Linked DNA regions of Homo sapiens. The protein of the gene in region 1 purifies or fractionates together with the protein of each later gene. This does not show direct contact. Each region holds a gene or a part of one and is shown on either strand. Other genes may lie near its edges.

Region 1 (15,190 bases):
TGGTGCTTTGAGAAGCCAAGGCAGGAGGATCACTTGAGGTCAGGGAGTTTGAGACCAGCCTGGACAACATAGTGAGGCCCCATTTCTCTCTTTTTTTTTTTTTTTTTTTTGAGACAGAGTTTCATTCTTGTTTCCCAGGCTAGAGTTCAATGGCGCAATCTCGGCTCACTGCAACCTCCACCTCCTGGGTTCAAGCGATTCTCCTGCCTCAGCCTCCCAAGTAGCTGGGATTACAGGCATGCACCACCAAGCCCAGCTAATTTTTGCATTTTTTAGTAGAGATGGGGTTTCTCCATGTTGGTCAGGCTGGTCTCGAACTCCTGACCTCAGAAGATCTGCCCACCTGGGCCTCCCAAAGTGGTGGGATTACACGTGTGAGCCACTGCGCCTGGCCGAGACCCCATCTCTAAAAAAAAAAAAAAAATTAACTGGGTGTGGTATCATCCATCTGTGGTCCCAGCTACTTGGGAAGATGAGGTAGGAGGATTGCTTGAGCCCAGGAGTTCGAGGCTGTGGTGAGCGATGATTGCGCCATTATACTCCAGCTTGGGATACAGACTTAGACCTTGTCTCTTAAAAAAACGGGTGGCATGAAGTGTGTAAATGACGTGGGTGACATAGAATGAAAACATCCATTAAGTGGATAAAAAGTTGCCAGAGATACGAAGGGAATGAAAAAAATCAAGGAAACACCCAGAATACCATATATTAATACATGTAAAAAGTCCACTTTAAACTCATTGCAAGGGTTACCAGTGAGATAGAGAGTGTGGGGTTAATTTGGTGGTCACAGAGATCTTTTTTTTTTTTTGTAGAGACAAGGTTTTGCTATGTTGCCCATGCTGGTCTCGAATTCCTGGAATCAAGCTGCCTCGGCCTCCCAAAGTGCTGGGATTACAAGTGTGAGCCACCGCACTTGGGAGGTCTCAAGTCTGTCTTGAAAATGCCAAATTTGGCCGGACCTGGTGGCTGGCTCATGCCTGTAATCCCAACATTTTGGGAGGCCGAGTTGGGTGGATCACCTAAGGTCAGGAGTTCGAGACCAGCCTGACTAACATGGTGAAACCCTGTCTGTAGTAAATACAAAAAGTTAGCCTGGTGTGGTGGCACGTGCCTGTAATCCCAGCTACTTGGGAGGCTGAGGCAGGAGAATCACTTGAACCCAGGAGGCGGAGGTTGCAGTGAGCCGAGATTGCACCATTGCACTCCAGCCTGGGCAACAAGAGTGAAAACTCTGTCTCAAAAAAAAAAAAAAAAAGGGGGGAAATTTTATCCTGCTTCTAAGCCTTCATACTGATTGTTCCCTCTGCCTTAGAACACTCTTTGGGGTATTTGCGGAGCTGACTCTTCTCTGTCAGGTCTCTGCTCAACTGTCCCCTCCTCAGAGACCTTTCCTGATTCCCCTGTTTCAAAAGCCACCTCCCCCACCACGGAAAATTGAGTGGCTGAAGTGTGAGAGGGATAGAGAAAGACTTCATTGTATGCCATCTTGCACTCTTTGCATTTCAAACCAAGTGAATTTATTACCCATTCAAAACTACCTGAATTAAATAAATCAAAATTTTAAAAATTGGAAAAAGTAAAAAACCCGAAGTAGCTCCCCTAGTCATTTTCTCAACACATCCTCCTGTTTTATTTTCTTCGTGACACTTGTCAGTGTGCAAGATGACTTCATTTTTTTAGTATTAATTACAGACTGGGCGGGAGAATGGCATGAACCCGGGAGGCGGAGCTTGCAGTGAGCCGAGAGAGCACCCTTGCACTCCAGCCTGGGTGACAGAGCGAGACTCCGTCTCAAAAAAAAAAAAAAAAAAAAAAATTACAGATTGCATCTTGCTATGTTGCCCAGGCTGGTCTCGAACTCTTGGGCTCAAGTGATCCTCCCACCTCAGACTCCCCCAAGTGCTGAGATTACAGATGTGGACCACTGCGCCTGGCGAGATGACTTTATTTATTGATTCCCTTGTTTGCTGCGTCTCCTGACCAAGAGGTCAGCCCCACAGTGGCAAGGATCTTGGTGGGTCAGCCTGGTTCATGACTGTGAGGCTAAGACCTGGCACACAGCAGGTGCCCTGTAACGTATTTGCTAACAGACTAGGCAAAACATGTCTTCTTGTTTTTTACAAGAAAATGTATTTGGAATCACTTATGTAAATAAAGTTTAATAATCAAAACTCTACTTCCCCTCAAAAACAGATGAGTAATAAGAAGGAAAGAGGTTATTGGACTGGGTTATCTCTCAGAATCTGTTCGGCTCTGAATATTTCAAAAACATTTGGTTGGGTTTTTTTGTTTTTTTTTTTTTTTTTTTTTTTTTTCGATTTGGGCTTTTTTCTTTTTGGTCTGGATGTTGGTGGAATTTCCCCATTCGTAAGACTTTTCTGTGAGAGGGAAGTAAGAGAAGAAGAAATAAGCATTTTGGGTTCCTACATTGGCCTTCCTTCCTTCCGCTGGTACATGTAGTTGGGGAAAGGGTCGGTTTTCTTCTTTAGTTCTGTTGAGGCCCCAGAGAAGCAAAGGATCCCCAAAGGACAACAGCTGTCAGGCCTCCATGTCCAAGGCTGAGCCCAAATGCGTGGGGTTGGACTTCCCAGCCCCATCCTGCCCCTTCTGTAACACAAAATGTGGGAGAAGGTAATGAGAAATTCTGTCTTGTCTCCTGGCACCTCTTCCTTTTCCTTTGAGGGACCACCATATCCCATCTCACAATCCATTAAGGTTTGAATGGAGTGGACCCCAACCCCAAGTGCGACCCCAGCCTGGCCAATCAGACACAGTGACTGGTCAGCATGTGACCTGGTGTGGCCAATGAGAACCAGCCCCCAAAGACCACTGCTGCAACTCCGGGGAAATTGGCAAACTTTCTCCACTGGGGAGGACAGGCTGCTGGGGTGTAAGCCTGGAGCTGCAAGTCTCCGCTACCTTAGGAGGAGACCCTGAAAGGTAATGAAGCCAACTCGGAGAAAATAAAAAGAGACCATTCATGATGACATCATCTGACAACTAGATGCAGCCATGCCTTAAGACTCTAAACTCTTCAATTACATGGCCCAGTAAATTCCCTGTTTTGTTTTCCCAGCTTGAATTGGGCTTCCATCTCTCACGACTCAAAGAAAACTGACAAATACCTCCTTCAGCTACTGAGAAATTGTCAACAATCCTCCCTCATCAACATGATAATCACCAAACTCCCACCTCTGCCATGCAAAGGCCTTGGGGCTCTAAACCCAGCTTCCTCCCTCCCATTTCTTCCCTGATGCCACTCCATGCCTTGGTCCACCACTATACATCTTTGGATATCTCCAAATTCTCCTTAGCTATCTGGGCCCCATTACAGCTTCTCTTGTCTAAGACCTGGATCATACTCATGTATGTCCTGATGGTATCTGCTGTGCGTCTAGGCCTTAGAATTGGTCATTAGCATTCCCTGAATGTTTCCATCTTATTCTTGGATGTGGGAAGCACTTGGGCTGATGGGGCACTGCAGAGCGTTGCCGGCTCACATTTCTTGGAGGGGAATCACAGTCTCTTCTCTGCATCTGCGTCTCCCTCCTCATGCCTTGCACAATGCTTCAGGGCTGGGAGTAGGAATGTATTAATATAGCAAGCTGGCTGGGTTGCAGTGGCTCCCGCCTGTAATCCCAGCACTTTGGGAGGCCAAAGCAGGAGGATCCCTTGAGCCCAGGAGTTTGAGACCAGCCTGGGCAACATAGTGAGACCCAGTCTAAAAAAAAAGAGAGAGAGAAAAGAAAGGAAGGAAGAAAAGAAAAAAAGAGAAAGAAAGAAGAGAAAAGAGGAATAAAATATATCAGGCAAATCCCTTATCCTCACTGGCTTCAATTTCCCTGTCACTAAGAGGGGTGGGCGGGGGGGCGTCCCCTCCTAAGAGAAACACTGGAGAACACAGGATCCTTACCTCTCCGCACTCTTCTGAGACCTGGCAGATCTGAGAATAAACTTCAGCAATGACAGTGGCCCTGGAGAGCACAGGAAGGCCCTCAGGAGGGGACTCTCCTCCTTCCACCCCACCCTCATTCCACCCCACCCTTCCTCACCCCAACTCACTTGCAGTCCAGCCCTCCCCCAGGAGGTAAATCTGGGATGTCCTCTGAGGCCAGAGTCCTGAAAACTGTGTTCAGGCTGGGGGGCTTCTGAGCAGAGGCACACAGTTCTGAGAAAGAGTCAAGAGTTAGGCTGGGCACAGTGGCGCACGCCTGTAATCCCAGCACTTTGGGAGACCAAGGCGGGCGGATCACTTGAGGCCAGGGGTTCGAGACCAGCCTGGACAACATCGTGAAACCCCGTCTATACTAACAATACAAAAATTAGCTGGGTGTGATTGTGCATGCCTGTAATCCCAGCTACTCAGGAGGCTGAGGCAGGAGAATCGCTTGAACCCGGAAGGCAGAGGTTGCAGTGAGCCAAGATCACGCCACTGCACTCCAGCCTAGGAGACAGAGCAAGACTCCATCTCAAAAAAAAAAAGAAAAAAAGAAAAAGTTATGGCACAGCCTTCACTGGCCAACCACCCCTCCAGCTGGGCCCCCAGAGTCTGCTCACCAGCGATTCTGCAGCCCAGGGCTGCGTCCAGTGCTAGCTCCCTCCTGATCGCCTCCTCAGAAGGCCTAGGGGCCCCAGGGAAGCAGACCAGGATGCAGGTCATGTTGTCCAGGCTGCCCTGAAGCCGGTGGAGAAAAAGGAGCCCGGTGGGGGAGAGTCCAAGGCAGAGCTTCCCAACAATCCCCAGGTTCAAGTCCCCCACTTCATTCTACTTATGCCCATTTCTTTCGCGTCCCACCCACCTGCCAATCCTCTCTTACTGGGACCAAACCCGGTCCTAGGCGCTCCCAATTGAGAGAACAATGCCTTTTCCCTAAAGCTCCGCCCGCTCTGATGTTTACCTGCTCTTCCACCTTCCAGCACTAATCAATACTTCCGGCCCGGCTCCTACGACCCAGAATCGCCCCTTTCCAAAAGACCACGCCCTTTCTCTTAAGTCCCTTCCACTAACTCTCCCGTGCCTCAAAGCATCCCTCAGGCTCCGCCCCTGTATTTTGGCCCTGCCCACTTCAGGCCACGCCCTTCGCTTGAGTCCTATCCCCTCCTTTGCTAGCTTTACTCTTGCCTCTCTATCAAAGCCCTCCTCCCCAAAACCCCGAGGCTCTCTCCCTCTGCTGCACCAAGCCCCAAAGGTACCACGCCACGCCCCCAGGACCTTGCACAGACACGTGTCCAACAGCTGCGCGCAGAGAAGCTCTGGGGCCAGGCCCAAGCGGAGGCGTGAAGCCACCAGTCCCGCCAGGGCAGCACCAGACACAGTGTCCCAGACGCCATCAGAGGCCAGGAGCATGAACTCGTCCTCAGCCTGGCGTGCCAGTGCGGCCACCTCTGGCTCCGCAGAAACGAGCTGTAGCTCGGGGGGCCTCCCCGGAGCCTCCTTGTAGGTAAAGTCGCCCAACGCTCGCGACACGGCCAGAGAGCCCTCGACGCGGCGGCGGCGGATGGTGCCGCCAGCGGCGTGGATGCGCTCGCGTTCCCGGGGTCGAAGGGGCCGGTGGTCCTCTGTGCTGAAGGCCACGGCGCCAGCGCGGCTCAGCACCGCGCGGGAGTCACCGCAGTGCGCCAGGTACAGAAACCGCGGGGAGACCAGCAACACCACGGCCGTGCAGCCGCCCGTTTCCACGCGGGGCCAGAGGGAGCGCAGGCGCTCGTCGGCGCTCAAGAAGGCTCGGCGCAGCGCCTCGCGCACGCCCTCGGGCTCGCTAGGCTCCGGGCCCAGCTCCTGGAGCACATGGCCTGGCAAATGGCGTGCACCGAAGCGGGCAGCTCGAGCCCCACCGTGGCCGTCGAGGACGGCAAACAAGGCCCAGCCCGGGGGCAGACCAGGTAACGAAAGCCAAGTGCAGTGAGCATCCTCCATGCGCGCGCGCCAGCCTTGCGCTGCGCTCGCCCCGAAGCGCAGGCCCCCAGACGCCTCGGCACCCCCGTGCGGCCGCTGGGCGCGGCGCGGCGCTGTCAACAGAGACCGAGGCCCTTCGGGGGCCCTGCGCCCCGCCTCCTCCTCCTCCTCTTCCTCCCTCCCCTCCTTCTCCCTCTCCTTTTTCTTGCAAGCGGTCCAGAGGAGACGCTGCAGCTGGCGGGCCAGGACCGCCATCCTTCAGCCCTGGGATCAGGAAGGCTCCACCCTGTACACCTGCCCGCCCCCTCCATTAATCCCCTCCGCTGTGAGATTTTAAACCATCTAAATCTCCTTCCTGTCCTTTGACCTGCTCTTTAGGCGGGTCACTAGAAGGAATTACACTTCTGGGTCTCCTGTTTCCTGCACCTACAAAGCGGGGTTTGGGATCTGAATCAGGAAAAAAAAAGAAAAAAGATAATACTGTACCAGTGGCAAACTATTACATAGTACTAATGTGTCACACACTGTTATACATCATCATCTCCAGTTTACATATGGAAGAAGAAACAGAGTCACAGAAGTAACCGGTGTTCCAGGGAAACTAATTCTAGAATCTGTGTTCTCAACACAACACTCAGTCCAAGCTCCTCCCACCTCAGTGGTACAGCCCCCAGCCTCAAAACCTGTAAATACCATACTTGGCCGGGCGCGGTGGCTCACGCCTATAACCCCAGCACTTAGGGAGGCCGAGGCAGGCGGATCGCTTAAGCCCAGGAGTTTGAGACCAGCCTGGGAAACATAGCGAGACCCCGTCTCTACAAAAATTAACATTTAGCCAGGCGCGGTGGAACACACCTGTGATCCCAGCTACTCAGGAGGCTTAGGTGGGAGGATCACCTGAGCCCGGGAGGTCGAGGCTGCAGTGAGCCGTGATCGTATCACTGCACTCCAGCCTGGGCAACAGAGCGAGACCCTGTCTCAAAAAGATATATATATATATATATATATATATATATATATATATATATACATATTTTTTTTTTCTTTACTGTTTTTAGTTCGACCCCTCCCCTCTGGGGCTTCGCTTATTTTCTCTTCCAGGCCCCGCCCATCCAGGATTCAGGCACACAGCTCCAGACCCTTCTAATTTTCGCAGACCTGGAATCGCCTGGAATCCGACCCCACCCAGTTATATTTGAATAATTCCCTGTTGCTTTAGCCCTGCCCACGTTTGAGCTCCTCCGCGTGCCCCAAAAGTTTCTGAATCGTTTCATTCGGCCCCCTTTCTCGCTCCCTCTGCAAATCTAGGCTCGGACCCTACCTCAGAGCATTAGAATCTTTCCACCCCCTCCTCAATGGCACCCCGAGCACCACCCCAACCCACCCAGGGATCCACGCTCTCATCCTCTCTGCCGTGGCTCGTTCACCATCCTCTCCCAAGTCCCTCGCCAGACTCCAGGCCTCCTTCCCTCTTCCCCTAAAGGCTGCGCCCTCTGCGATCTAGGCCCCGCCCTTCAGGCCGCTTTCCCCTCCTTCCTGGCTCCGTAGCCCACCCTCTTGGTTCCGCCCCTTTAGTAAGAAGGCCACGCCCCTCCGCCTGATCCTCGGCGTTTCCCCGCCCCTCACCCTCCCTCTGGTACCGCCCCGCCCGTCTTCTGGCCCCGCCCCCGGCCGCGCGCTGCAGTGCCTTCCCCACCTCGGCCCCGCCCGCCCCCGCCGAGCCGAGCACCAGGGCGGCGGCGGCGGCGGCGGCGGCGGCGGCGGCTGGAGCAGCCCGGGAGGAGGAGGCGGCGAGAATGGCAGCGGCGTCGTGGGCGCGGCGGAGATGAGCGCCCGCGACCCCGGGCCCAGGGCGGCACAGCCGGAGTGGGCGGGGGTCCCGATGCAGGCCCGAGGGGGGCCATGGGGCAGGTCCTGCCGGTCTTCGCCCACTGCAGTGAGTAGAGGAAGACTGGGGCCTGGTGTGGGCCCCAGAGGTTCAGGTGGGGTACTCCCCGGTGTCCCCTCGGCGCTTGCCCGCAGGAGAGCCGGGATGGGGGGAGGAGGCATAGGAGACAAAGGAAGCTCTCCCCTCCCCCGCGCTCTGGCGGCGACGGGGGTAGCCTGACCCGGAGGACCTGGACGAAACAGGGCGGAGGTGAGGGGGCACTGAGACAGCAGGCGGGGGGCGCGCTGCGCTCTGGGACGTACCGCCCGGCCCCGCCCGGGAGCGAGGACGCGCGCGGGGAGCTGTCCCCTGGCTCTGGTGCTGGCCGCAGCTGGCGGGGAGGGGGTTGAACGGAGGGTAGAGCCAGGATGGAAAACAGGGGTCTGGCTCCCAATCACTTGCCTTCGCATCCCATCCCCGTTTTCTGTCCAAGAGGCAGCCCCGACCTCGCCCAAACTGTCCAACCCTGTCCCGGGAAAACAGCCATCCGTGGTTTGGGGGCAAGGACTCATGGGTTCTTAGCGGTCTTTACCACTGGTTAATGGTAATCCTGGGGAAGACCCACACCATTCCAGGCCTCCTATTCCCCAGCTGAGGAAACGAGGTGAGGGCACAGGGCGTCAGATTTCAATTTCCAAACCGCATTGAGCATCATCTATGTGCAAAGCTCTGAACTAGCTCTAAGGGGCTGGATTCCCAGCTGAAAACGCCTAGCCTCACAATCTCTGAGCTCACAGCTATAACAGTCCATGTCTACCGTTCTCTGTCCCACACATGGGGGTTCTGACAGCTGGGGATTTCAACACCCTTAGATCTAGCCATTTCCATGTCTCGCGTGTCCAGATGCCAAAATTCTAAGAATTGGTGATTTCAGCATTTTCGAGTATCATCCCAACATTCTATGATCTTGTCGTTAACTTCAGATTACAAAGGGAGGACCACCTCGTCTGTCTCTCCCCACCGCCCTTACCTCTCTGTTCTCACCTCCCACTCCTCTCCTCCTCAGTCACTCTTCTCCAGTCATATCTTCGCACCTCTCAGTTCCTCAGATGCCAAGCATGGTGCCTGGCTCAGGGCCTTTGCACTGGCTTTCTTCTCTACCTGGAAGACGTCCCTGAACATCTGCATGGCTTCCTCACTTCCTTCAGATCTCTGCTCAAACGTCATCTTATCAGAGAAGCCTTCTTGACCACCCTATGAGAAACAGCACCCCTTCACTTTCTCTTCCCCTACCCTTCTTTACTTTGCTCCCTATGCTCATCTGCACCCGACGTCATATATTCACTTGTTTATTGTTTGTCTATCCCAAAGAGTGTCAGCTCTAGGAGGGCAGGGATTTTGTCTGTTTTCTTCACAGCTGTATCCCCAGGACCTAGAACAGTGCCTGGCACATAGTAGGTGCTCAATAAGTGGTTGTTGAACGAATGAATGAATTGAAACCTCCTAAGATTCCTACTTTGAAGACTCTAAGATTAAGATTCCTGGATTTGGACTTCAAAGACTCTGAGCTTCATCAGGCAGTGATGCTAGGTTTTAGAGTCTGTGTGCAGAATGTTCTAAAAATCCCGTGATTCAAATATTCTAAGATTCCAGGACTGGGACACTTCTGTGATTCGGACAGTCTAAGCTTCTAAGAGTCTTCGATTCTTTCCCTCTCGCAGAAGAAGCTCCGTCTACAGCCTCCTCAACTCCTGATTCCACAGAAGGTAAGTGGTGGGGAGCATGTGAAGGGGCTCAGGGCTGGGCAGCTCAGGGACCTGCTGAGGGAAACAAGGCTCTCCTTCACCCACTGCAGGAGGGAACGACGACTCTGATTTTCGAGAGCTGCACACAGCCCGGGAATTCTCAGAGGAGGACGAGGAGGAGACCACGTCGCAGGACTGGGGCACCCCCCGGGAGCTGACCTTCTCCTACATCGCCTTTGATGGTGTAGTGGGCTCCGGGGGCCGCAGGGATTCAACTGCCCGCCGCCCCCGCCCCCAGGGCCGCTCAGTCTCGGAACCACGAGACCAGCACCCTCAGCCCAGCCTGGGCGACAGCTTGGAGAGCATCCCCAGCCTGAGCCAATCCCCGGAGCCTGGACGACGGGGTGATCCTGACACCGCGCCTCCATCCGAGCGCCCTCTGGAAGACCTGAGGCTTCGGTTGGACCATCTGGGCTGGGTGGCCCGGGGAACGGGATCCGGGGAGGACTCTTCCACCAGCAGCTCCACCCCGCTGGAAGACGAAGAACCCCAAGAACCCAACAGATTGGAGACAGGAGAAGCTGGGGAAGGTGAGATGTCCGAGGTGCTGGGACCAAAGCCAAGAGGGGTGGGTGGTTTCTCCTTGGGGCACCTCCAAGAAGAAAGCTCACGGCCTCCTCTCTCTACCGTATCAGAACTGGACCTACGACTCCGACTTGCTCAGCCCTCATCGCCCGAGGTCTTGACTCCCCAGCTCAGTCCGGGCTCTGGGACACCCCAGGCCGGTACTCCGTCCCCATCCCGATCGCGAGATTCGAACTCTGGGCCCGAAGAGCCATTGCTGGAAGAGGAAGAAAAGCAGTGGGGGCCACTGGAGCGAGAGCCAGTAAGGGGACAGTGCCTCGATAGCACGGACCAATTAGAATTCACGGTGGAGCCACGCCTTCTAGGTAAGCAACGTGTATGAAGATGCTGCATTGGCCCACAGAAGGCAAAAGGTGAGAGGATTTTGAATTAAAGGGACCAACCTCGCAAAGGAACAGTACATAGTGGAAAAGGGAAGAGATAGACGTGATATCACATCTGGCTAGACGTGATAAACTCCGCTTTTTAAAAAAATTTCCCCGGCCGGGCGCGGTGGCTCATGCCTGTAATCCCAGCCCTTTGGGAGGCCGAGGCGGGCGGATCACTTGAGGTGAGGAGTTCGAGATCAGCCTGGCCAACATGGTGAAACCCCGTCTGTACTCGGGAGGCTGAGGCAGGAGAATCGCTTGAACCTGGAAGGCAGAGGTTGCAGTGAGCCAAGATCGCGCCACTGCACTCCAGCCTGGGCGACAGAGCGAGACTCCGTCTCAAAAAATAAAAATAAAATAAAATAATCCTCCCTCTTCTGGAGTGCTCCTCCTAGTGGCTGATTTTGGACAGGCCAAATCCCTGAAAAAATACAGTTCTCTCCTTATTTAGATGTGGCCGTAGAATATTTATAAGTAAACTCTGTGCCTTTTAAAAACTCTTCTTTTTGGCCGGGCGCAGTGGCTCATGCCTGTAATCCTAAACACTTTGGGAGGCCGAGGCGGGAGGATCCTTTGAAGCCAAGAGTGCAAGACCAGCCTGGGCAACATAGGGAGACTCGATCTCTATTTGAAAAAACAAACAAAAACCCTCTTTTTCCTGACCACATCTATTGGCCAGTTGTAAAATGACCCAGCCTTACTTTAAAATATGCTCCGCCTCCAGGAACAGCTATGGAATGGTTAAAGACATCATTGCTTTTGGCTGTTTACAAGACGGTTCCAATTTTGGAATTGTCCCCACCTCTGTGGACAGCCATTGGCTGGGTCCAAAGGGGCCCCACCCCCCCTACTCCTGTCCTCCGGGTTCTACTGAAGTGGGCAAAATCCCCGAGAAGCAGCGGTGTCCCCAGCCTCTCACTCGGAGCCGATATGGGGAGTAAAGGTGGGCTTGCGGAACGGGCTGGACGGGGGCTGAGGTCGGCGGAACGGGGTCCAAACTCGCCCTTATCTCCTGCACATCCGGAGCATTTTTATTACTGATCTGCTTCCGCAGCGCTGCAGGCTGGGGCTAGGGGGCCGAGGGGCAGTATAGGGAGGACCCAGAGGGAGCATGGGGTCCCTTCTCCTTCGAGCCAGCACTTTGGGGCCCAGGAGCAGGGAGGACCCCCTCCCCCAGCCTCGGCCCCAGGCAGCGCTGTCACTCAGGGGCCAGACGGGCCAGAACAGCTGCGGGGAGGCCCCCTCCCCCCAGCGTGCCTAAACTTAGCCCCCGCCTCAGGCGACCTGGCCCCTCCCCCATCCACCGGCGCCGGCCACTAGGAGCCTGCCTGGGAGGGCCCTGCTATGGGGAGGGAGGGGCTGCCCTATTTGGAGGTAAATGAGAGGAGATGCATTGGAAGGAGACGGAAGTGAGGGGTGAGCCTCTAAGAGGGACCGGTCGGAGGGGTCAGTTGGAGGGAGTGTGGGAGGATAGAGAGGATCTGGAAAGAAATAGAAAGGTACTGAGTTCCTGGTTTTCAGGACTCAAAGGAAAGCAGATTACTAAAGTTTCTTTTTCTTTTTAAGCCACAGAGTCTCCCTCTGTCGCCCTTTCTGGAGTGCAGTGGTGGGATCATAGCTCACTGCAGCCTCCAACACCTGGGCACAAGTGATCCTCCCACCTCAGCCTCCCAAGTAGTTGGGACTAGAGCCACAGGCCACCACGCCCTGCTAATTTTCTTATTTTGTTTGTAGAGACAGGGTCTCACTATGTTGTCCAGGCCTCAGGTGATCCTCCCGCCTCGGCCTCCCAAAGTGTTGTGATTACAGGAGTGAGCCTAAAGTTTAGACAGATGAGATGAAGGTTGGGGTACAAAGGTCACTGGTCAGGGCTGAGGTTGGGTTTAGGAGGTGTGTTTTAGGGTCTCAGAAAGGGGTCAGAAATTTGAGTTAGGCCCTGGAAAGGAGTATGGCGTGATTAATACATTTAGGACTTAGAAACATGTGTTGCTAAGGGTATCAAGGGGATATCACTTTACACCTGACAGATTGGCAAAAGTTAAAAAGAACTGCAACCCACTGCAGGGCAGGATGCTGGGAAAAGATCTTTCTCTTGCTTCTTGTGGAAATAAGAACTGTTATGGTCTTACTAGTAAGCAGTGTTTCAAAATTTATGACATTAAAAAAATATATATGACCGAGCGCGGTGGCTCATGCCTGTAATCCCAACACTTTGGGAGGCCGAGGTGGGAGGATCACTTGAAGCCAGGAATTCAACCTGGGCAACATAGCGAGACCCTATCTCTACAAAACATTTAAAAATTAGCCAGGTTTAGGAGGTCGAGGTGGGCAGATCACAAGGTCAGGAGATCGAGACCATCCTGGCTAACATGGTGAAACCCCGTCTCTACTAAAATACAAAAAATTAGCCGGGCATGGTGACGGGCGCCTGTAGTCCCAGCTACTCGGGAGGCTGAGGCAGGAGAATGGCGTGAACCCGGGAGGCAGAGCTTGCAGTGAGCTGAGATCGCGCCACTGCACTCCAGCTTGGGCAACAGAGCGAGATTCTGCCTCAAAAAAAAAAAAAAAAATTAGCCAGGCCAGGCATGGCAGCTCATGCCTGTGATCCCAGCTAGTTGGGAGGCTGAGGCACAAGAATCTCTTGAACTCGGGAGGCAGAGGCTGCAGTGAGCTGAGATCATGCCACTGTACTCCAGCCTGGGTGACAGAGGAAGACTTTGTCCAAAAAAAAAAAAAAAAAAATTAGCACGATATCGTGGTGCCACCTGTAGTCCCAGCTGCTAGGAGGCCGAGGTAGGAGGTTTGCTTGACTCTGGGAGGTAGAGGCTGTAGTGAGCCATGATCACGCCACTGCACTCCAGCCAGGGTGACAGAGTGAGACTCTGCCTCTAAAAATAAAAAAAAAAAAAATGTGGCCGGGCGTGGTGGCTCACGCCTGTAATCCCAGCACTTTTGGAGGCCAAGGTGGGTGGATCACCTGAGGTCAGGAGATCAAGACCATCCTGGCTAACACGGTGAAACCCCATCTCTAACTAAAAATAACAAAAAATTAGCCAGGCATGATGGCACATGCCTGTAATCCCAGCTACTCGGGAGGCTGAGGCAGGAGAATCGCTTGAACCCGGGAGGTGGAGGTTGCAGTGAGCCGAGATTGCACAATTGCACTCCAGCCTGGGCAACAAGAGCGAAACTCTGTCTCAAAAAAAAAAACAAACAAACAAACCAAGGTCAGGCGTGGTGTCTCACGCTTGTAATCCCAACACTTTGGGAGGCCGAGGTGGGAGGATTACTTGAGGTCAGGAGTTCGAGACCAGCCTGGCCAACATGGTGAAACCCCATCTCTACCAAAATATAAAAAATTAGCCGGGTGTGGTGGAGCCCTCCTGTAATCTCAGCTACTCAGGAGGCTGAGGCAGGAGAATTGCTTGAACCCAGGAAGCGGAGGTTGCAGTGAGCCAAGATTGTGCCATTGCACTCCAGCCTAGGCAATAGAGCGAGAATCCGTCTCAAAAAAAATAAAAACAAAAACAAAACACACACACACACACACACACACACACACACACAGACACACAACCAGTCCACCCAGCAATTCCACCCTGGGAATCTGTCTCAGAAATAGTCACTCCAGGAGGTGAGAATATCTGTTGGAGGATGTTGCTTGCAGCCCTGCTTGCGGTGAAGGGGTTAGGAAACAAACTGAATGACCCAGCAATAGGTACATGGTTAAATAAAATGAATGAGAGCACAGGAGCACAGCCACAACACAGAATACTATGCAGCTCTTTAAAATAATGAATTAAGGCCAGGCGCGGTAGCACATGCCTGTAATCCCAGCACTTTGGGAGGCCAAGGCGGGTGGACCACGAGGTCAGGAGTTCGAGACCAGCCTGACCAACATGGTGAAACCCCGTCTCTACTAAAAATACAAAAATTAGCCGGGAATGGTGGCACATGCCTGTAATCCCAGCTACTTAGAAGGCTGAGGCAGGAGAATCGCTTGAACCAGGGAGGCGGAGGTTGCAGTGAGTCGTGATTGCGCCACTGCACTCCAGCCTGGGCAATAGAGAAAAAAATAAAAATAAAATAAAATAATTTTTAAAAAATTGCAAATCGGGCTGTGTGCTGTGCCTCACACGTATAATCCCAGCACTTTGGAGGGCTGATGCAGGAGGATAACTTGAGGCCAGGAGTTCGAGACTAGCCTGGGCAACACAGTGAGAGCCACCTACCTCTAAAAACAGAAACAAAAACAAAAATTAGCTGAGTGGTGGTGCACACCTGTAGTCCCAGCTACTGAGGAGGCTGACGTGGGAGGATCACTTGAGCCCAGGAGATCGAGGCTGCAGTGAGCTATGATTGCACCACTGCCTCCAGCCTGGGTGACAGAGTGAGACCCTGTCTCTCAAAAAAAAAAAAAAAAAAAGGAAATCAGGTTATGCTCAAACAGGTGTGTCGAGAAGTCATTTTCAGCTGTAGGACAGGGAAAGGGAGGTGAGGAGACCAGCCAGGTCAGGTACAAGCCCTGATGCCCCCCACCCCTCCACAGTGGCGGACCTGCTGTACTGGAAGGACACGAGGACGTCAGGAGTGGTCTTCACAGGCCTGATGGTCTCCCTCCTCTGCCTCCTGCACTTTAGCATCGTGTCCGTGGCCGCGCACTTGG
Region 2 (15,636 bases), on another chromosome or scaffold:
CAAAAAGTGAACACTGGGAAACAACATTCTCCTCTGAAATTAATGCATCAAAAATTCCTCTTGGGAAGAAGACAAGGAAACAGTAGAAGATGAAATGAATTCTATGTGTAAATTTTATTCTAATATTACTAATTTAGCTGGAAAACTGTAAAAAATGACTTTTAGGTCTATGTCAGTATAACATTCCAAGAAGTATACAGGCTTAAATCGGAATACTTGGGACACAGTCATCAAATGAACGTCTTAAATTTTCTGCTACATTCAGCATCTCTTTTTTTAGTGTAGACAAAACTGTTGAATATTCAGGATTATCATTTGAATTTGGGTGAACCTTTTTGAGCTAAGAGAGAATCGACAACCACAATATATATTATGAATACAGTGAATTATGAAAAAAATGAGTAATTTAACATTTTTGTGCTTCTAAGTGAAAAGGCCAAAGCTTTGTGCCGTATCATTTGCCAAATCTCTGCATCCTCTATGGATTTCCCTAGCTGCCACTGCATTGTGAATCACACCACAGACTAGAAGCACCCTGAGGGCAGGAATTACTTCGTATGAGAACACAAAATTCTCATGTGTCCTCTGGTCTGTGTTTGTGGATGGAGGGTGTTTGATGACTATGTTGACGGTAAAAAGCTATGGTGGCTAAAAAGTATACCCTTTACTCTTGGAGAAACTGATGTAAGGCCAGATGAAATCTTCTACTGTTACCATTTTGGACTTCATCTCAGAGGAAAGGTATATTTGACACTATCTATTAAAATGTTGATACCAGATGACTCTGTCAACAAATATTATGCTTTTTCATGATAGTCTGTCATCTAGAGCATTTGTAGTGAATTTTTTGCTACTAAATAAATAAGCAAAGACATTAAAAAATAACCTGGTACAGGTTTTAAAATAATCTTAGGAGGAAATGAATGTTAAATTAGGGAATTTAGAAGTTTCTTTTCAAAATCAATTTCCTTTAATTAAGGGTAAATTTTAATTTACAGTATCCCTCAAAAGAAGCTATCTGGAAAATTTAAAATGTAATTACTTCTGTGTTATTCATAACAATTCACAATGTCATAGAAAACAAATAATGATTAGTCTGTCTTGACCTCTTTCCATTTCTGATTATATAGATCTACCCTGCAGTCACTTTGCATTTTATATTTCCATGCACAGATTTCCATTGCATGGCACATATTCATTTTCAAAACACCGGGCAAAAATGCTAGTGGTTTTATATAACTGTGTTAACAATGGCTGGTTATTTCATTGCACTTAAAAGTTAAAACCATAATGACTCCCAAGTCAACGGTTTTGACCAATTTCAAGACTACCTTCTCTTTTTGTTCATTCTGGCATATGTGACACAGGCAATAGTAGATATACAATGAAATACTAAGTGGGTCTGGTACTGTAAATGTCATATTCTGGGTAGATGTGAAGTCTTAACTTGACATCTATGAACTTCTGAGGAGGTGGGTGGCCCACAGTTTTCTCTGAAAGATTAACTCAAGAGGATAAGATAGTCATGTAAAACATTTCAGGCTAAGAAGCTTCCTATTGAATACTGGCCATCTCCAAATACCGCCATCTTAACAGGAATGGGAATGGAATTATTAGGAAATTTTGACTTTGACTTTTCCTTTGCCTATACAGGTAAAATTTAAATTCTAGGATGAAAGTTTCACAATCTGGCTTGAAGATACTAAAATAAACCACCTTATTTTTAATATTTTGTTGGTTAAAAGAATGCTATAATCACATCCTCCTAACTTTTGTCTATAGTGACAAGTTAATTTTGCTAGAACAATTTGCAGAGATGCTGTTTGATATCAATAAGTATCTGCACTTTTAAAACACAGCCATACCATCTTGGTAAATGTTTAACACTGATGGAAAATTAACAGCTAGTTTCTTTAAACTGTTATCTCCAAAAATAAGACTAGTACAGTATTTAGAATTTCCAAAAAAGTATGGCTTGAAAATCCAAGCTGTTTAAGGCAACAGCAATAATTAGAAAGTTTAAGTCTCTGCTTAACTGTCAAATAGGGAAGGGGGGGACAAGAGCATTGGCCACATTCCTCTCCTATTTTGTTAAATCACAGTATATGAAAGAATTCCTCCACAGAATTGCTAGAAACCAATTTGCAGTCAAACTGTTAGCAGTTCATCTGAAATTTAAAATAGGTTTAGTTTAGTCAATGAACCTAGAATAAGAAAGGGCCTATTTCTTTATGAAGCAGGTGGGTTCCAACTTCTCCCTGCTGCTCAAATAAAGTTCTAATTAGTTCCTCTTGATTCCTAAAATGTAGATGCATATTTCACAAGTATAAAAATTACTTTTACCAGTTTTAAACTGTGTTCATTTGGGAGCTAATTTTTTAGATTTAGTCATTTTAACTACACAATCTTGTAGTGGAAGGCATCCAGTTTAGGAGTTTCAGTCAAATTTGCACTGCACTATGCCAAACTTCAGTTTATATGCTCCGAATGGGTATGTGCAAGTATGCATCTAGTTAACAAAACGTTGTGTTTTCCCAGATATTTTCAATAGTTTTATGACAAGTGAAAAAACAAAGTACAGATCAGAATTAGCACAAAAAATTCTGGGCACCTAGACTTGGATTTCATGAGTATGATACTAACTTATTGTTAATATTCAGGGGGTTTCTATTTCAGCAACATGTAATACACAAATCACTAATAAAATAAGTGATACGTCTCACATGGAATTACTGCTTCCTTCCTCCTCCAGTTTAATGTCACCACAAAAAAACTCGGAATCAGATTTTCCCTGAATCTGATACAGGGTGTACAGGGATGGACATGTGGCGATGGGGAGAGTGCAAACAAAAACAAGCTAACTCCTTAGTGAGAACAGCAGAAAACAAGCTAATTTTTTAGTGATATTCCTATTTTGGCCAAAACCTTTGTATGAAATAAGTTACAGCAATAAACTTGCTTTAGACTCCCTTTTTATGATTGAGAACTTTCTAATGAAATAGTTACATATGAGACAGTAGAAAATCTATTAGCATAGAGTAGACATTCAGTAGTGATTTTTAAGGTTTTTCTTCCTAACTGTAGCATATTAGATTTTTTTTTTTGGTAGAAGAAGAAAACCACAGTACCACCCAGGATGATGCCAAGTTTTAAGTTTTTTTTTAAGTTTATTTTAAAACTGAAGGCAGATTATTCATAAAATCATTCTGGAGACTTATTTGGGTTTCTACGACATGTACACAGACAGCCTCTACTGTGCTATATATATTTTGATTACTAGGTATAATGAATACTCTAAACCAAGAGAGTGTGTTTAATGAATAGTATCTTTAAAAGGAGACGATTTTTAACCTTCCAAAACTGAAGAGAACCATCCCTGGCCTTCTTAAAAGATTATAAAATAATGCACACATTTAAAACAATAAATTTTGCCTTCTACTTTTGAGCATGGAATTTAGTTATATAGTAGAGCTGGGGCCTCCAACAAAATCCAGTCACAAACTGACATATTTACAGCGCTGTCAACCAGGTACTTTATGCCCATTCAGAACATTTAAGGGTCCCAATTAACTACTGTGAAACTCGGGACTCAGCCCCACATAAAACTATTAGAGAACGTTTTTTTCTTTTAATCCATGAGAACCATATGCTTAATTTATACTGTAGGATGAAAAGATGTCCTTTTTAGCAAGTTCTACCATTCTGCCATTTTGCATTTGAAACACGGCCCAAGTGTTCTGACTAAGTGAAGTGTACAAATTGTGTAAGCTTTTATATAAGCAATGGTATAAATGGGGTTGCAGTGGGCTGGAGAAACTTTTAATTGCATCCCTTTAATATCCTCCAACTCTGAGCTGCTTAATTCCAAAAAGTGATGTCGCCTCCTACAACCCTTTTCAACTAAATATGATTATGTTTATCAGGAAATGCACTTTGCTAAAGCATAAGCTATTCATGAATATCTTTCTCAGCGTATTACACAAGGAAATTCATCAGGTTTTGACACCTGTTTCAATAATGTATACTTTTCCTAATAAAAGAGGAACTTCTGTCCTGGTATATACACAATCTCTTTGGCAAATATTGTTAAATATTAAAATAAGGTGATCTTTGTTCACAGCCAGGAATACTGGCTTAGGTCACACATAATGCAAATTATTGTTTCAGTATTGCCATTCTCAGGAGTAGTAGCTGCTAACTTAGCAGCTATAGGAACACACCTGCTAATTGTATTCTTTAAAATGTAGACTTCATTACCCATTTCTAAAATATCTTCCTAGTAATTTGTCCAAGATCTCCAGGTCAGCAAAGACTGCTACTCTTTTAAGACCAATACTTTAAGAAACGGAATGAAAACTAGGAACTCACACACTCTGAACTCCACCTGCATCAGGTGGCCTTTCTGCTCCCATAACTAGGACGTTTCCAAATGCACCCCCAAATAAGGTACAATTCCCCAACATCCTAGTTACGGGGTTCTGGCTTCTATCTTTAGGCTACTGGAGGACCAGAAGCGAAATACGACTCCACGTGAAACCAATCCCGGGAGCGGTCAGCACGGACCGCCAACCTCACCCGCTCAGGGTGTTCGCTCTAACTCCACGGGAGTGGCGATTTCAAACCCGGCCGGGAGAGGGAGGGATCAGGAACGTAATGTGACGGGCTCAAGTGACAGCGTCCTCTCTCCAGCCCAACCCTCCCGGGCGGCGCTCCCTCCCGGTGGCAGCGCAGCGCTGGCGCCGGCCAGGTACATTCACGCCTAGCTCCCCTGAGTGTGGATACACGGCCCGCTCCAAGAACGGGGTCAGATCCAGCCCTCGCGCCCCAGTCCGGTCCCAGCGCCCTCTCTGGGAAAGGCGGGCGCGGGCGCGGGGGTGGGAGGCGCCCCCAGGTGTTTTGGCGGGTTTCCGGACACGTGCGCCCGGCGTCCTCCCCGCTTCCCCGCAGCCGGGGCAGAGCCCACCGCACCAGCTCGCGGAGCAGCCGAGCCGCCCGTTACGCCGCTCACCTCCGTCCCCGTAGGTCTCCACGCCGTACCCGTCTTGCAGCCCGTTACTCCAGGTACCCTCGTAGCGAGCGGGGGTGCACAGGCTCTGCCGGACCCCGTAGCGCCCCTTGAAACCATGTGACCACTCCCCCCGGTACATCCACTTGCCCTTCGTCTCCACCCCCAGCCCGTGCCGCTTGCCCTGCGCCCAGTAGCCCTGGTAGGTGTTGCCGCTGGGCCAGGTGTAGCCTCCGACCACCTCGAAGCCGTGCGACCAGGAGCCCGAGTACTCGCCCTGGCCCTTGGGCCCCGTGCAGATGCCATGCCCGTGCGCCTTGCCCTCCTCCCAGCCGCCGCAGTAGGTGCCGCCATCGTCGAAGTCGAACCTTCCGCCCGTCATTCGGGGGGCAGCCCCGGCGCGCTCCCCGCAGGGGCACGGACGCGGGCAGTGCTGGGCACGGCAGGGTGTAGCTCGGGGGTGGGGGCCCGGCGGGCGAGCTCACGACAGCGCCCTGGGCAGCTCGCGCTGCCGCTCGGCTCCAGTCCGACGCCGCCCCCGTCCTCCCTCCTCTTTTGCCGCCGCCACCGCCGCCTTCCTCCTCCTCCTCCTCCTCCTTCGCCGCCGCCGCCTGGGCCAGCGCCGCGCGCGAGAGGACAGCCCAGGTTCCCGAGCGGACCTTCAGCTGCTCCCGCCCGCCCACGTGAGCCGGGCACCGCCCCGCGCCCGCCCCTCGTCCCCTCCCCGGGCGCCGAGGCCCGGCCCCGCGGCGCTCCCGCCCCACCGGGCCCTGCCCCCAGCCCCGGGAGCCGCCGCTTCCTCGGCAGGCGGGCGCGCGCGGGGACCGGCTGGCGCGCATGTGTTCGCGCAGTGGGATGCCGGTGGGAGGGCGAGTGTACCCGGGGACGCACGAGAATCCCTGCCTGGAGATGAAGGCGCGGCTGCCTGTGTGGGGGCCGCTCGCGGGCGCCGGAGCCCCCGGTGTTTGTGTTTGGGGTTTTTCAAAGTGGTTAAGCTCCTGTGAGTGCGGCCACGTGTGTGTTGAGGGAAAACTCATTGTATGCGTGTTTGTCTGCATGGGGTTTGTAGTTGCATTGTTTTCGCATTCCAACTTGTGTACTGTTGCATTTGTCATGCTCAGCTGTCATCGTGAATTAATATCGCCTAGATATATGTATGCATGTGATGTAAATCTGCGGCAGCCTAGATATAATTGTGCAGAGTGTTCTTTTACACCTACCCGTTTCAAAGCACACGTGTTTGCATTTATTTAATGAAGACACTGAGGGTGAGCAGTACAGTTTGAAAAAGCACAGAATATATTGGTTAGTTTTTTATTAATAGTGATGAAGAGGATGTTTTCAATCGGCCTTTGCAGTGGTACAGGATATTCCTTTTACATTAGAGCCTGCCCCCTCTCGTGCCTCGTTTGTGCTTCTTAACAGCCTTAGAGATTCTTGAGCCTGGAGCTGTGTGCCCAACAGGTAGACGGCTCGGTCTGTGTACATTGTATAAGTGTCTGGAATGCACACCTCTCCACTGGTATCCACTGTTTAAGAAAGTAAATAGAGGTTTGCAAGGAGGAATATGGTAAGTAAAGCACTGCTCTAAACTTGCAAAGAAACTGTGACCTACAAAACCAGGGACAGATGTCAGCTGGTCTACTTTCTAGCTACAACACTGCTTTGTCGAATTCACTTTAGGCAACTCTTCTAAACTTTTAAACCTCCATTTCACCATCTTCTGAATGGGACTAACAAGATTTGCCTTTCTCTTTCTATATTCGGTAATAACTGAGTATATTGTGGCTGCAGTGCCAAACCAAAAATTAGAGATTTGGTAATAGGCAAGTTGGATCAGCATTGCCTCTGGTGAGAGAAAGCATTATTCTCCACCTCACCCTCAAAATACCCACGGGAGAAACTTCTCCCACTTTCACAGCCTAGGGTCTTAGTTTGGCCTCTCAAGGAAACTGATTTGGAGTGTATTCCTGCTATTTCTTAGGCTGAGAGGCCTTTGGGTGACTATGCGAGCATCAGAAGCTGCCAAAGGTTCTCTCACTAAGTATTTGATAATCAGATATAGATATAAGGACAGGTGTCAGGAAGACAGCCTGGGAAAAAGTAGACTAAACTGCACAGAAAAGGAACTGAAATTGACCTTGATTGCCTCTCTCTCAGGACGAGAGCCGACCTTTCCTACTTATCTGGCTGAAAGACTGAAAGAAAAATCTCAGTTTATGCAGAACCAAATCACCAAAGAGAATTAGAAGCCCTCATCCATGGCACTGCCCGCAGAGTTGCCAGGAATAGTGCTTACCCTAGTGGCCTGAAATAATTATGCATCTCTCGAAGCATCTTGTCCTGGACTGGGGATTGATTTAGGCCGCTGGGAAGATGAGGGCCAGGGCTTTGCGGCTGAGCCATAATTCCATTTCCCTGTTATGGGATACACCAGAATCAGGAGCTAATGTAGAAAGATGCATTCCCATATATTTTGAGGTTCTGTATGATATGAGAAAAAGTGTGGTTGCTCAAGCCAATATTTTGAATGGGGGAGTCTCTTTCTAAACTAGACTTCCTCATAGAGTAGTCTTTGTCCCTTTGCCTTTTTTTTTTTTTTGGATCCACCCAGTGTGTTAGGACCCATATATGTTCTTTAAGGGGATAAATTTTGGAAACCTTTATCTCTTTATTTATTACTCTTCCTAATTAGTTGTCATGCAAATGAGGGATTTTCTGGAACACAGAGCACAAACCAAGTTTCTGGCTTCTGTAATGGATATCTAGTCTATTTGTGGTGGGAGGTGCACACACATCTGGATTGAATATGAAGATTTGGGGAGGAAAAAAGACATGGCCATTTATTGCTTACTCTTTTCCTGTGGCTATCCCTAATAGATGCCTTGCAAAGAACCTTAATTAAAAGTGAGACTTTACCACTAGGTATGTATGATTAAATTTTAACTAATCTTAATCCTAGCCTAGCTCTGATGTTGACTTTCTTTATGAAAGAAAGTTGGTATTTTTGGTAAATTACTAAACAATTTTTGGCAAATAACCATATAAACCATGCTTCCATTTACCAGCTGCCATCACAATGGAATGTTTACCCAGTCACGAAGACATATGTGTTAGTGTAAGTGTTCAGGGTCAATGGTAACGGTTGGAGAAGACGGGGAGAGAATACTAGGAAGAGGAAGAGATGCTGAGAGTGATGGCATAGCAGATAGTAGACAGTGGAATAATGTTGCAGTTTAATAGTCAGGGTTAGTAATGTCCTTATTTTCCCTCTCCCTCTGAACCTTTGCCCTGGATAAGGGGGAGTTGAATTTAGCTTTAAGAAGGGATTAGTAAGAAGAGAATGTGAATGTTGGTTTGACAGGTGGAACGGGGGAGGCCATGAAAATCCAGGGGCCAGCAACTACCCTATAGTTTGTTTTCCTCCATGTTAAAAACCTAGTTATTATATATTTCCATTCTAAAAAATTTTATAACATATTGTAAGCTATTTTGAGTGTGACTATGACCAGTTAACAACATATTAGTAAGGATGTTTTGCTGGAATTTAATGATGTCTTTCAAAAAATGAAGGTGTATTTAAAAATTTATTGGTGACTTCATTTTATTTACATAGTAGATTAATTATTGGCTGGACAAGGTGGCTCATGCCTGTAATCCCAGCACTTTGGGAGGCTGAGGCGGGAGGATCATTTAAGCCCAAGAGTTTGAGACTAGCCTGGGCAAAATAGGAAGACCCCATCTCTAAAAGAAAAAACAAAAAAACAAAAAAACCCCGACTGATTATTGAGAGTTTTTAATAAAAAATTTACAAATGACAAAAAGCTAATCTGTAGGTGTTTATTGTCTAAAAACCATGATTCAAAGTGTGTAGAAAAACACATACAATTAAAATCACTTGATATATAAGTCAAAAAGTGTTACCATCTTGATTTATACAATCAAATAATCAAAATTTGAATATTTGCAATAAAGAATTTACAAACTCAAGAAATTTGTCCGTGATAAATATAAAAATTAAGAAATATGGTCAGAAACTTTGCAGGCAGTGTGAAATCAGAAGAGGAAGAGAATTCCAAAATTAATGGTCTTCAAGTCTTTTATGGCAACTACTGTATGACAGATACCATACTAAGCTTTTTTTACAGGTATGAATTCATTTAAATCTCATAGTTGTAGATGATTTGTACTAGTCGTACAACCATTTCACAGAAGGAGAAAATAAGGTTTAGCACATTCATAGGTACAGAATTATTCAAGGTAGAAATGGTTGAGGTGGGATTCAAACCCAGGTCTGTGTGACTTTAGAGGAGGTTCTTTATTCCTGTCCTTGATTGGAGAGAGGATGAGAACACATTGAGAGCTTTCAAATGCTCGGCGGAGAACAACAAGGTGCAGTAAAGATGACTTTTATTTCTTATTTTTTTAGATTAGCTGCCTGGGTGAATGATAATGTTGCTGTCTAGATTTTTTTTTTTTTAAAGGAGGAAGGAGAGTAAATTATGGGGGCTGCAGAAGATATATTTATTTAGGAGACAATGATCCAGAAGTATACCCCAGAGATGATCAGTAGGCAATTCAGTAGGAGAGGTCAAAAATTAAAAATAAGTAGGTTGATAAGTAAATAATGCCCATTTTTCTTCTTCCTCTGACAGCCGTTGTTCAGTAACATCCCCTTCTGAGACTTCCACTATTCACTCGGGCCTCGGACATAGCCTGGACTTGACTTTGATCCAGCAAGTAAGGTCCAGTAAGGCCAACTCTCTGGAATTTGAGAGTATAGGTCCAGCTGAAAATTGCAAACTGGGATTTTACAATTCCACTCTGACGGCGTTCCCTCATTGCCACTCTCACTGAACACTCCGTTGGTTCTCCTCAAAGTCCTCCATGCTACATAGCACAACTTTTCCCAGGCAGATTCCTGATATTTATCACCATCCTGGAGCCCATCTCCACTGCAGCTTTCTCCTGCTGAGCAGAGGACACTGTCTTCTGTCTCACAGAGGAAGAAGGAGCTAGGAACACTTGCACCTTTCCTCTCTTCAAAAACTTTACACAGGTTCCCATTTTCTTCCTCTTCCCATTCACCTGCCTCCAAGAGGAAAAGATAGCCTTTTTCCTCCCCAAGTTCTGGGTCAGTTCCTTCTCTCTCTCTCTGTCTTTCTCTTTCTCTCTTTTTTGAGATGGAGTCTCGCTCTGTTGCCCAGGCTGGAGTGGAGTGGTGCAGTCTTGGCTCACCGCAACCTCTGCCTCATGGGATCAAGCAATTCTCCTGCCTCAGTCTCCTGAGTAGCTGGAATGATAGGTGTGTGCCACCACAACTGGCTAATTTTTGTATTTTTAGTAGAGACGGGGTTTCACCATGTTGGCCAGGCTGGTCTCGAACTCCTGACCTCAAGCAATCCACGCGTCTTGGCCTCCAAACCTTCTCTCTTTTAAATATGTTTTAATTTCTTCTCTTTCAGCCAACAAACAAGCTCTTGTGTTTTCCATATTAAAACAGTCCTAATTTGCTGGTCTACCATCTCCTTAAGTCCTCTATGTCTTTTCTTGAAACTGCAGATCTTGAAAGAGTGTATTCTGGTCTTTATGTCCCTGCCTCCAATTTACGTACTACTTGATTTGGATTCTGTTCTCACCGGTCTAGTGAAGCTTTTCTAGCCATTAGGGACCTTCTGTTTGACAGATATGATGGCATATCTTCAGTTCCTATCCTGCTAGTGGCAGCAGTGAATTTTATACTTGGGGACACTCATCTCCTTGGCTTCTATGATGCCCATATTTGTGCTTCTCTTCTCCCTCTTCATCTCCCACCACTTCAGCTGTGTCATTCTCTGTGTATTTTTCATCTTCTTATCCCTTTCTAGTCTCCTTAACTTTATGCTATCTGTTGTTTTCCAACTATTAGCCTTATGGTACCAGAATTTTGTATAATTGCTGGATATTTGTTGGCTTATCTTGTATAACTAGGCAATCCTGCCCTAGAAGCCAAGAGTCTGATTTAGAAATAGTCTAATTCTGATCTAAAAACACCAGCTGAGCCTATTTAACTTTCAAGGGCAATGCTTTGGTTTCTTCTCATGATGCGTCCCTTGTGGCCCTCTGCCTCCTCTTCCTAATGGGGAAAGCTCCACATAGACCTGGACACCATCCATGTCTAATGATGAGGCTCACAGAGGGTTTCAGGAAAGTTCTAACAATAAAAAAGGTAACCTCAGATGAAAGGGAGACTTGAAAGAGTGGTAACTTGAAGACAGAGTGGATTGCAGGTCTGTATTAGAGGTGTAGTGCCTGAACCAAACCACAAAATGTGTACGTATATGTATGTATATGTGTGCATATGTTTATTCATCTTATATATGTGTACATGGTTACTGTCTTAGGTATGGAGACATAGAGAAGTAAGGCTCAGCCTTTGCACTTAAGGATATAAAATATCTCTAAAGAGACAGGAGATGAAAAAGAAAAATAATAAAAATACAAGGGAGATAACTACAAGTAGCCAATAAGTGCCAAGTATCGTAAGAGTTCAGAGGACAGAGTGATTTAATGGATTGCTATGGTTGAAACAATTTTCAGTAATCATTGGCATGTTGTTTAACTTTATGGATATAGTAAAGGCATACCCTTCTAGATATTTATAATGCAATGATCTTCTTGAATTAAGAGGCACCCTACCAAGGGAAGGAATGAAGGGAATGAAGGTTTACCACTCTTTCAAGTCTCTCTTTCAATCTGTGATTGTAAGAACAGAAGAGACTTCCTGAAAAAGAAATCCCAGGCATCCGAGGAGACATGGCGATGAGTTCATCTCTCATCCTACATTTAAAATCACAACGCTTTGTTCTGAAACTATGACTGAAAGGCAACTCAGTATTTGAAATTGCACGACTTGGAGATAGCAAGGGAATCTAAAAGCATTTTGAAGAGTGTCAGTATTGAGATGTTGTTAAAAGTTGTAAAAATTGATGAGATAACCTTTTCATAAAGCAGTTGCATAAAGAAGGGAGGTACACAATATTGTTGAAAGCAAAGGAGTAAGTAGCTACTAAATGACTCATAGCTGAAGGAAAGAAAAACGCAATCAATTATTAGACAGTAAAAGAAATGTAAATTATAATTGAGGAGTGAATGGTTCCAAGAGCTCAGGAATGGGATTTGAAACAATAGCCAATAATAGAAGAGGCTTTCCTCTAACTGAATGACAAGGGGGGATGTGGTATCTTTGCCAAGAGTTGCAGTACCAATCTGCATATCAGCTCAGCATGCACACCTCAAAGCCCTTGTAGGCCATTCTTCAGATACTGATTGCATTCCAAATAAAGCTTAAATTCCTCTTCCTTTCCTTCATCCCACTCTAGCATTTTTGTCATCTCTTGCATTTTACATCATTTTCATGTGGCAAGCACTTTTTAAAGCTTACAGAGACATCAGAACACCCAAAGAGTGGCTGTGGAGGCTCACTGCTCAGATCTGCCTTCAAGAGAACCTACAGTTTGGAGGGTACTTGGCAAAGAGACTCCAGCTGCCACAACTTCACATCTCCTGTGGGTTTTGCATCAAGGCCACTGCCCCTGACAACCCCTCCAAGTTAAGGGTAAATTGATGCATCTTGCATCCTCTGCTACAAAAAGGAAGCAGAACACCTGGTAGGCCTACTCTTTGGTTCTGGAAGCAACACATACACACTTAGACACTACTTCAGCTTATGTGCTAGGTGACACAGAAGGGAGGCCACCAGCTTTGAGAGGGCTCAGACCAGGAAGGGGTTTTTCTAGAGGCTCAGGTTGTGATGCAAGCAGCCCTGCCTCTTGGGCCATATGATCAGGCAGATCCTATGGTGTTGGAGGTATCAGTGGTGAGAAAAGATATATGAAGATTATGGCAAGCCCCTGTGGAAGAATCACAGTTGCAAGTCTATGGGGATCTAAAGCAAGGATCTATATCATCTGCAACAGGCAATCTTACATCTTTTGAGAAACAGTTTACTTGAAAGTTACTTGGCCTTGGTAGTAAAGGAGTGCTTGACCATGGGAAAAAGTGCCTGTTCATTCAGAATTTCCCATTATGAGCTTGAGTCCTCTTGACTCAAGTCTTGACAGACCCAGAAGCAATCTATTGTGAGTTGGGACTGGGATCCCCAGGAGCAAGCTGAGGGGGACCAGAGGGCATGAAAAGCTGCAAGAACAGGTTGCCTTTTCTTGAGGGCTGTGTGGGACAGACCCTCATGTCCCCCACCTGGGTTCCACTGGTTCACTTCTCTGAGCAGATTGGGGTTTCAGATAACTAGCTGAAGGGGGAGGAAAAACCTTTATCTGGTTTACGGTTGGATGAGCTCAGTATGTGGATGTAGCTGAAAATGAATGGAGGCTGCATTACATCTACACTCAGGAGTGGTCTTGAACATCTGTAGACCGGGAAAATCTTTCCAGTGGGCAGAACTGTGAATGTTGAACCAGTCATGTATTTTGTGTGGAAGGGAAAGTGGCCCCAGGTGGGAATATTTATATAGATTTCTGAGCAGTGGCTAACAGCGTTGCCTGGTCAGAGGCTGGACAGAGAAGGATTGGAAGACTGAAAACATGGAGGTCTAGGCTAGAGACATGTGGATGAACATATGGGAATGGACACAAAGTGGAAGAGGCACTGAAAACCCAAGTAGATGACAGGACTCAGCCAGTTAATGTCAGCCTTCCTCAACAGACATCCCAGATCTGGAGCAAGGGGCACATGAGCTTAGTTGCCTCAGTGGCAGAGATGGAGGTTGTACCTGGGCCCAAGAGCAGGGACTGCTGCTTATTGAGGTTGGTTTAACTACTCCTAACTTTGTAAGTCAGATCTGTTAGTAACAGAGAGTATTCCTTGCAAATATCAATCACCTACTTGGTGGTAAGTTGAGTATATTAGACTCATTTCAGCCTAGAAGAGCCAGTGGTTCATCCTTACTAAGGATAGACGTTCTGGGTATGGATTTACCTTTCCTCCCCACAGAGCCTCAGCCTGTACCAGCACTGTCCAGTGGCTTATAGAATACCTGATTCACAAGCGTGGGATTTCACACATAAACTCCAACCAGGGGACCCACTTCACCGTGAAGGAGGTGCCAGAACGAGCCCTGATTGTGGGGTCCGCTTCGTCTTAGACACTGTATTACTGCTTACCTCTGTAATATTTCAGGGGCTAACCTCATAGAATAATGGAATGGTCTCCTAAAGGTACAGCTATAATTCTAGTTTGCTGGTAATAATCTGCAAAGATGGAGTGGCATTTTTTGGGGTGTGATATATGCACAGAATCGGATTTCTCTATGACACTATCTCTAATAGGGAGGACATAGAAGCCTAGGAACTAAGAGGTAGAAGCAATAGTACCTCACTTATTATCACATCCAGTGTCTTTCCTATCGGTGCATCTCTGGACTTTGCAGGGTTCCCAGAGGGGAAGCACTCTTGCCAGGGGACAAAGCAGAGCTGCAAACTATGGCTCCTGCCTGGCAGATCCAGGGATTGTGCCCAGGGATCAGCAGGTAAGAAGAGGAATCACCATATTGGCAGGAATGATTGACTTTGATGAGCAGAAGGAGGCTTTTATATAACGGGGACAGAAAAGAATATGTGCAGACCCAGGTGATCCACTTAGGTGCTTCCTGGGACTCTATGGATCCCTTGTATCCATGGATGCAGTCATGTGGCAACCCTGGTCTGAGAAAGGTATGACTTACAAGGGGTTCAGACCTTCCAGAAATGAAGGATTAGGTTATACCACTAGGTAAGCCACTAGAACCTACTTATGTGATAGCTGATGGTGAGGAGAATGAAGTAAAGAAAAGGGAGAAGATGAGAACCATTTTTAGCCACAAGGCTAACTTCAGAAACAGGGACTGCTATTTGTCCCATTAACTTCCCTTATCAGAGCTTCCCTTCAGGAAGAAAGGCCCCCAGGAACTGCCCCCAGATACATGTGAAGACAATCTCTGCAGTGCAAGGGGAGATTGTGGTGGTCATAGATGTGCACCACTCAGATCTTCCTTCAGGAGAACTTGCTGTGAGAGAAGAGGTTGGTGAACATCCTGTAGCTGCTGCACCTTTGAATTCCAATAGCATTCATGCTGAGGCCACACTGTCTAAGCTGTTTCTAGCCAATAACCAAGCACAGTGGGATTCCAGGAACTGGGTCATTCCTTCTCAACACAGACCTCCTCTGATGGGTGAGATTTCCTGTGCTCCCCACTGACCTGGCTAAAACCTTTTAAGGGCTACACTGCAGTCTGAGCCTTTTCTACACAATTCTTCCTTCCCTGCTTTCCTTTCATGGGTTTCCCGCCTACTCCTGCTTCCTGTGGTCTTTATCCTGCATGTGTGTCTGATTCTATCCTGGAATCTGCTTCTTGGAGACCTTGAACTGTTACACACGGTGGTCTTTAAAGAACACACAGCTAACACACACATGCACACATACACACTTACATTTACAGGTGGTTCTTGGTCAGAGAGAGATGGAAAGTCTAAATCACAACTTACTAAACTGAGTTTAAAATCAGATTTCCTGGTTCTTAAAAAAGAATGGGGAAGCTTTCTATGTACTGATATGGAAAATCCCCAAGATCTATTAGATAGAAAAGAAAGCAAGAT

What was found.
Region 2: the proteins of RTN2 (region 1) and JPH1 purify together in Homo sapiens (affinity purification with mass spectrometry; 3 studies listed by BioGRID and IntAct, with this or other methods). This does not show direct contact.

What each region holds. Positions count from the first base shown.
Region 1 is NC_000019.10:45,489,437-45,504,626, reverse strand, and holds the start of RTN2 (reticulon-2), read left to right. Parts: upstream 1-7,579; 5' UTR 7,580-7,801; coding exon 7,802-7,835; intron 7,836-9,487; coding exon 9,488-9,532; intron 9,533-9,621; coding exon 9,622-10,101; intron 10,102-10,206; coding exon 10,207-10,461; intron 10,462-11,248; coding exon 11,249-11,467; intron 11,468-15,073; coding exon 15,074-15,190. Other genes in the region: PPM1N (putative protein phosphatase 1N), read right to left, coding at 2,427-2,610, 4,066-4,171, 4,561-4,678, 5,216-6,154. UniProt on the Homo sapiens protein: Inhibits amyloid precursor protein processing, probably by blocking BACE1 activity. Enhances trafficking of the glutamate transporter SLC1A1/EAAC1 from the endoplasmic reticulum to the cell surface.
Region 2 is NC_000008.11:74,315,901-74,331,536, forward strand, and holds the start of JPH1 (junctophilin-1), read right to left. Parts: upstream 5,641-15,636; 5' UTR 5,388-5,640; coding exon 5,009-5,387; intron 1-5,008. UniProt on the Homo sapiens protein: Junctophilins contribute to the formation of junctional membrane complexes (JMCs) which link the plasma membrane with the endoplasmic or sarcoplasmic reticulum in excitable cells.